2 linked regions of the Homo sapiens genome follow. The protein of the gene in region 1 purifies or fractionates together with the protein of each later gene. This does not show direct contact. Each region holds a gene or a part of one and is shown in the gene's direction. Other genes may lie near its edges. The genes, in order: NOPCHAP1 and RRP15.

What was found.
Region 2: the proteins of NOPCHAP1 (region 1) and RRP15 fractionate together in Homo sapiens (co-fractionation; one large-scale study listed by BioGRID). This does not show direct contact.

What each region holds. Positions count from the first base shown.
Region 1 is NC_000012.12:105,013,673-105,017,501, forward strand, and holds part of NOPCHAP1 (NOP protein chaperone 1), read left to right. Parts: 3' UTR 1-3,829. UniProt on the Homo sapiens protein: Client-loading PAQosome/R2TP complex cofactor that selects NOP58 to promote box C/D small nucleolar ribonucleoprotein (snoRNP) assembly. Acts as a bridge between NOP58 and the R2TP complex via RUVBL1:RUVBL2.
Region 2 is NC_000001.11:218,291,633-218,295,461, forward strand, and holds part of RRP15 (RRP15-like protein), read left to right. Parts: intron 1-3,829.

The sequences.
Region 1 (3,829 bases):
GGGCCGGAGTGCACCGTTCCTCACGGCACAGTATCTCATGGCTTCCCTTGGCTAGGGGAGGGAGTTCCCTGGCTTCCCTTGGCTTCCCTGGGCTAGGGGAGGGAGTTCCCTAACGCTTTGTGCTTCCCAGGTGAGGCAACACCCCACCCTTCTTCTGCTCCCCATCCATGGGCTGTACCCACTGTCTAACCAGTCCCAATGAGGTGAGCTGGGTACCTCAGTTGGAAATGCAGAAATCGCTTGCCTTCTGCGTTGATCTCGCTGGGAGCTGCAGACCGGAGTTGTTCCTATTTGGCCATCTTGCCAGCCAGCCGAGAGATCACTTTTTACTGTGATAGGCAATTTACTGCAGAGAGGAACTGTTCACACAGAGATGATTAGTGTCACATGGTATCGTGAGTAGATACTTGCAACACGAGCTCATCGCAATAGCAACAGGAGGTGACCACAAAGTTATTACAGTACTAGAGTTAATTTTATGCAGTTATGATTTAATACTGTGTCTTTGCATTTGTTTGTATTTCTTTCAACTGCAAATGGTACTAGGTACCGTCTATAAGTGTTTGTGTGGGTAAGTGCTGATAAATTCTAACTTTTTATAATAGATTTATATATTTTTTATGGTAGAAATGATGAGATAGACTGGTATCTACATATATTTAATGCATTTTTGACGTACCTAACTTTTTAATTTTTTTTAAGCCATGCAGTTCATCTGTGAATTTTTTCAAATTGTCACAAATCTCCAAAAATGTTAAAAATATATTTATTGAAAATAATCCATGTATAAGTGGACCCACACAGTTCAAATCTGTGTTGTTCAAGTGTCACCTGTATTTAGCTATTCTCAAACATACCTATTTTTATTTTAAGAATTCCTTTCTAGTTTGAGTTGGAAAACTGATGCTTGTAGTGTAATCACTGTTGGTGACAGTGCAGTCATACAATGCATGCAGAATTTACTGGTTGGAAAGATCAGTTTTTAGTTGATTTTTTTTTTTTTGTAAAGCAAAACTTCTTATCTCAGCTATTAAAACTGTTCCACACAGTTGCCCACAGCCTGAAACCTATCAAATGTAGAAAATAGGGACATCACAGCAAAATTTGGAGGGCATAGTACAAAGAAAGGCGACAGCTGGTTTTCCCTTCCAAAGGTCAAAATGACCTCAGGCTGGAGTTGCCTTTCTGCCCTATTCTTGGTTTTATTAAGTTTATTTGGGATCTCATCTGCCATGAGCCTGACTTTTGCTCAGGAAAGAGGCCTGAGAATTTAAGGACTATCTGTGAGTGGGCAGAGCTGATGGAACTTTGTCTGCTAATGTTTTCGGGTTTTCTTTGAATTCTGTTCTTTCCAATTCTTCACATTGGCCTGAGTCTTCTTGTGATTGCTGTGAAGATAATTATCCAGGTCCTTTCTGATCTTTCTTATTGGAAATTGGAACCAGCTCTCCTTGACTGTGACTCACTCGCTAAATGTGTAAAGAAATGAGCAGATCTGAAACAAGATTTTTTCAGCTGGAAAGAGTACACCAGAACTGTACACAGCCGTGATGAGTTATTGGCATAGGTACTTATTTAAAGATTTTCTTCCACTGGATGCTATGCTACCTTGTGTGAACAGTTGCATTTGTCTGTTTCACTACTTAGCATAGTGTGTGGTGCACAGTAGGCATGGAATAATGATAATAAATGGATTAAATGGATGCATGAAGGTATACAGGAGACTTTAAGCTATCATAGACGGTTCCAGGCAGGAGAATATGAAGATGTAATTTCAAGTACAGTTGTTATTGTCAGTTTTGCTTTCCATGGTTTCAGCTACCCATAGTCAATCACAATATAAAAATATTAAATGGAACATTCCAGAAATAATACATAAGTTTTAAGTTGCTGAATAATGTGATGAAATCTTAGGCTGTCCCACTTCGTCTCGCCTGGGATGTGAATTGTCCTTTTGTCCTGCTTATGCACGCTGTATATGTTACCCACCGTTTAGTCACTTAGCAGCCATCTGGATTCTCAGATTGAAAACAGTGTGTATAGGGTTCTGTTCTATCAAATGTTTCAGGCATCCTCTGGGGGGTCTTGGAATGTATCCCCCATGGATAAGACTACTTGTATAATCTGGTAAAATGGATGAATTATTCATAAATAATGTCAGAACCAGCTATTTCAAACAAGATTAGATTCTCTAGCCTCATATCATATGCAAAGATAAATTATATATGGATTAAGGATTTAAATGTAAAAAAAGAAATTATAAGAGTTCCATACCGAAATGCAGGTTTATATTTAGTAAAATAGTCAAGAAAGGTTTTTTTTTTTTTTTTTAAAAAGCATAACATCAAAGCCTAAAATTACAAAGGAAAAGAGTGGAAAATTCATCCCCATAAATATTAAAAACTAGTGTGTTGCAAATAAATTCAAAAGATAAGGGAAATACTGGGGAAAATATCTGAAACATGACAGAGTGTCATTAATATATCATGGGCTTTTACATTTTAGAAAAAAATGACGGATATCTCAGTAGTGAAAAGACTATAGGAAATGAAGAAGTAATTCACAGAAAAAGGGTCAACTCCATTTATCAGAGAAATGCAAATGAAATCAGGATTGCATTCTTCACCTGTCAAATTGGCAGATGCAACAGTAGCTGGTACTTACTGAGCCCTTTCTGTGTTAGCTACTAGTCTAAGAGTTACCACCACTCATACATATGTAAAGGCTAATGGAGTTGTAAATGTAACTTTTGAGGACTTTATTGTATGTATGCGTATTAGTCTGTTCTCACACTGCTAATAAAGACATACCCGAGACTGGGTAATTTATAAAGGAAAGGAGGTTTAATGGACTCACAGTTCCACATGGCTGAGGAGACCTCACAATCATGGTAGAGGGTAAAGGGGTAGAAAGTCATGTCTTACATGGCAGCAGGCAAGAGAGCTTGTGTAGGGGAGCTCCCCTTTATAAAACCATCAGACCTGGTGAGACTTATTCACATGAGAACAGCATAGGAAAGACCCGCCCCGATGATTCAGTTACCTCCCACCAGGTCCCTCCTACAACACGTGAGAATTATGGGAGCTACAATTCAAGATGAGATTTGGGTGGGGACACAGCCAAAACATATCAGTATGTTATGGCCTTATATAAAAGTTGTTTTGTTTGTAAGCAGTTTGCCCTACAGTGTGTGGAAAGTGCATCACTGTTGTGCTTTGGTTGTCCAACTCTTTGCTTACCCTGATGCTTAGGTGTGAGTTGATGGCAGTTTGGCATTTGGAGAGCAGTTGCACTCCTAAAATGAGTGAAATGTTCTCTTCAAACTTGTGGCGTACCGTCTTTCTATGGCTCTGTGACAGTTACAGATCCGAAAATTAGGTGTAATGGCTTTTGAAGCAAAAATCTCATTCTGAATAAATCTCCCATCTGTTCCAATAACATTTTAATTGCGCATCAAATATGGTACTTATTTTTAAAAACTGCCTAGCAGGATAGTTTGTGTTACTCTGCCTGTATCCATGACCGTGATAAGAAATGTAAGAAAAGGCCAGGCATGGTGGCTCACACCTGTAATCCCAGCACTTTGGGAGGCCAAGGTGGGTGGATCACCTGAGGTCAGGAATCCAGACAAGCCTGGCCAGCATGGAGAAACCCTGTCTCTATTAAAAATATAAAAATGAGCCAGATGCGGTGGTGCATATCTGTAATCCCAGCTACTTGGGAGGCTGAGGCAGGAGAATCGCTTGAACCCAGGAGGTGGAGGTTGGAGTGAGCGAAGATCATGCCACTGCACTCCAGCCTGGGTGACAGAGAGACAGACTGTCTCAAA
Region 2 (3,829 bases), on another chromosome or scaffold:
GCAATTCTTCTGCCTCAGCCTTCCGAGTAGCTGGTACTACAGGCACGTGCCACCACGCCCGGCTAATTTTTGTATTTTTAGTAGAGACGGGGTTTCAACATGTTGGCCAGGATAGTCTGGATCTCTTGACCTCATGATACACCCACCTTGGTCTCCCAAAGTGTTGGGATTACAGGCGTGAGCCACCGCGGCTGGCCCCCCACTCCCCACCCCCTTTTTTTTTAAGACAAAGTCTTGGTCTGTTGCCTAGGCTGGAGTGCAGTGGCATAATCAGAGCTCTCTGCAGTCTTAACCTCCCAGGCTCAAGCAGTTCTCCCACTTCAGCCTCCAAAGTAGCTAGGACCACAAGTGCGTGCCATCATGTCCAGCTAATTTTTCATTTTTTGTAAAGATGGGTCTCACTCTGTTGCCCAGGCTGTTCCCAAACTCCTGGGGTCAAGTGATCCTCCTGCCTCGGCCTCCCGAAGTGTTGGGATTACAGGCATGAGCCACTGCACCCAGCCTTCAATTTTTCAAACAACAAACTTTAATGCAAACTCATAGCACCATACATTTTGGGCATACTGTACTGTTAGAGGAAGTGGATAATAATAGTTATATTTAATATACTTTGTTGATTCATTAACATTTGAACTCATGGATGGCCAATAACGTGCCTGAAAAAAGCTTATTCAACACATATTTTCTCTGAGAGGCACATTGCATCCTTGTGCTTAGGGACACTGCACAACCCGTCAGCATTATGCTTGTGGGCCATTTTAAACATTGCTGTAGCCAAGAAAAAGCACAGAAATGGAAAAAATGTGGCACTAAATAGCTGTAGGAAGAACACCAGTTTACAATGAGAAAGTTAAAACAAGGCAGAGTGTCTCCTTCAGCCTCAGCTAGGAGTGTGCATGTAGGGAGACTCCAACCCTTCACTGCTCTAAGCATGTCTGTGAATGACTGCAAAAGTGCCATGAGTATTGATTTGGGGTTACGAATACATTTTACTGAGTTAGTGAATTCTCAAATACAGAATCCACAAATAACAGTGATTGACTGACTGAATCTCCTTGTAAACTGGCAACAGTCTGCATACCCAACCTGTGTGATCTGACCACTGCTTGCCTCTCAGGCTCACATCTTGTCATTCCCTAGACGACTAGGGTCATAGCATTCTGAACTAGTTTCTGGAATACAGTCTGCTCTCTGTCTTTCTAGTCGTGCTTATGGTACTCTATTGGCATACTCTTTTTATTCTTTACTTTCTCTTAACCAGCTTTTCTCTATCCTTTAGGTTTCAACTTAAATGTCTCCTCCACTTTGTCTTTTACAAATTTTCCTATCTCTGCAATATAGATAAATAATAAAGGATCATATATTTTACTTATTATTTTAAAACTTTTTTTTCTTATTTTTTTTTTTTTGAGACAGGGTCTTGGTATGTTGCCCATGCTGGTGTGCAGTGTGGCATGATCATAGCTCACTGTAACCTCCAATTCCCATGCTCAAGCAATCCTCCTGCCTCAGCCTTTTAATAATTGGGACCATAGGTGCACACCACCATGCCTGGTTAAAGAGTCCTTTATTTAATACAGTTAGTAATATAGGTCTGTTGGTTAAAGATGGGACAATTCTTCTTTGGCTTAACTCAGAATTTGCTATTTAATATAAGAAATTGCTGTTTTCCGCTCATGAAATTAAGTATTTCTGTAAAGGTGACCCATGGAGGTGGATTTTCTAGTCAGGTAGTTGTATACATGTGGTCTTGGTTAAACTATTAAGTTATCAAAAACTTTTATATGATAGTACTGAGAAACTATAAAGGCAGAGTCTTCAGACCTATGAGGAATCAGTGTGTAAATTACAGATATATTTAAAGAGTACTGACTTGTTTTATCAGGAAACTGAATCAGGCACTTATCTTTGAATTTTAACTGGATTATAAAAATTGATAGGGATGTGCCCTATATCGACATTTGAAAAACTTCCTTTAGTAAGACGCTACTTGAGTTTCATAGAAAACCCAGATATAACCCATATGTTGTTTGAATTTTATTTTTCTGGCTTTAATTTCTTTTCACATATTGTATAAGAAAAGTAGAAGAGTGTGCTTTCATGAGAACAAAACTCAAAACTCAAGTATTGTTTGTTAGACTGCAGAAGTTTCCTAAGTTCCATGGGGACAGAGACCTTGTTACTGTGAGGACAGCTATATCTCAGTTTGACATAGAGCCTGATTCATGGTGTAGTACTTGATATCCATTTATTCACTGAATAAATTGGAAATTTCTCTTAACATGATTTTTTTAATACTCTTTTCTCATATACTAGATTATCATGGAGGTGAAATTAGCAGTTATATATATCAACTTGAATAATAGCAAAATGACTAAGATTGAATTTTTGGTGAATTGCAGTACTGTCAGTACGATTTGAAATTTGATCATAATAAAATTGAAGGGGATCACGAATTAGAGATATACAGCCGGTGAATGTGGAAAAAACACCACTCAGTGTGCTTTTCTCTATTTTCTCACTCAGCCACTCAACAGCAACAATCATCACAGAAGACTTCTGTGATTAAATGTGTATGGATTCATTCTCACACCCTAAGCAAGTAATCAATTCTGCAGTGGATACCACCTGTTTGCTCTCCAATTCATTTCAACATTATCTACCTGGAGGTAGTGTCAGACCCCACAGACTGAGGGCTCAGCTTCATAAGACTGCCCAAACCCTTCAGATACCAGTCCTAAATCCAGACCTCTGGAACTTCTGACCAACTGACTTAAAATTGGGGTTCCCATAATCTTCCCTTTGGGTTCGATTAATTTTCTAGAGCAACTCACAGAACTCAGGGAGACACTTAAGTTTATGGGTTTATTATAAAGCATATTACAGAGGATACAGATGAACAGATGCATAGGGTGAAGTATAGGGTGAAGGTGTGTGGAGCTTCCATGCCCTCCCTGGGTGTGCCGTCCTGCAGGAACCTCCAGGAGTTCGGCTATCCAGAAGCTCTCTGAACCCTGTTTTTTTTTTAATGTTTTATGGAGACTTCATTACATAAGCATGGTTGATTAAATCATCGAGGTGACTCATTTAACTTTCAGCTTCCCTCCCTTCCCAGAGGTTGGGGAATGGAGCTGAAAGTCCCAAACTTCTATTCCTGTCTTGGTGCATCTGGTGACCAGCCCTGATCCTGAAGCTGCCTTGGGGCTACCAGCCCTCAATCATTAGCATACAAGAAGATACTCCTTTGGAGATTCCAAGGATTTTAGGAGTTGACCAAATAGATATTTCACAGTATCACAGAAGGTAAAGTGCTACAGTCTGCATTTTAAGTAATATATAAATGACAAGTGTTATAGAGGGGAAGGTGATGGCCCTACCTGAGTTATCCCTGAACTACTCAAATTTATTGACTTGATACCTTGTTGGAAGTTTAGATACAATATATACTCGGTTCTTAAGCTTGTAGTCTTAAAACAATAAAAACCCCAAAACAGAAAAACAGTCTTCCTAGTCAGTAAATCACCTCAGGTGAAAAAATAACAGTGGTTGATGATATCAAGTATGATAAAGGGTAAGATGATAGCCCCTACCTCTGAGTTATCCTTGAGCTACTCAGATTTATGGAAGTTAAGATGCAACTCTAACTAGGTTCTTAAGATTGTAGTCTTGGGACAGGGTGCGGGGGAAGCGTCTGTTGTCTGTAAATCAACCCAGGTTAAAAAAAAGAAGCCTTGATTGTTACTCGGGGCTGTGATCTGATTGACTCCTCCCTCATAGAATGTGCCCATATGACTATAAAACAATAAGGAATATCATTTCAGGTTTTCCA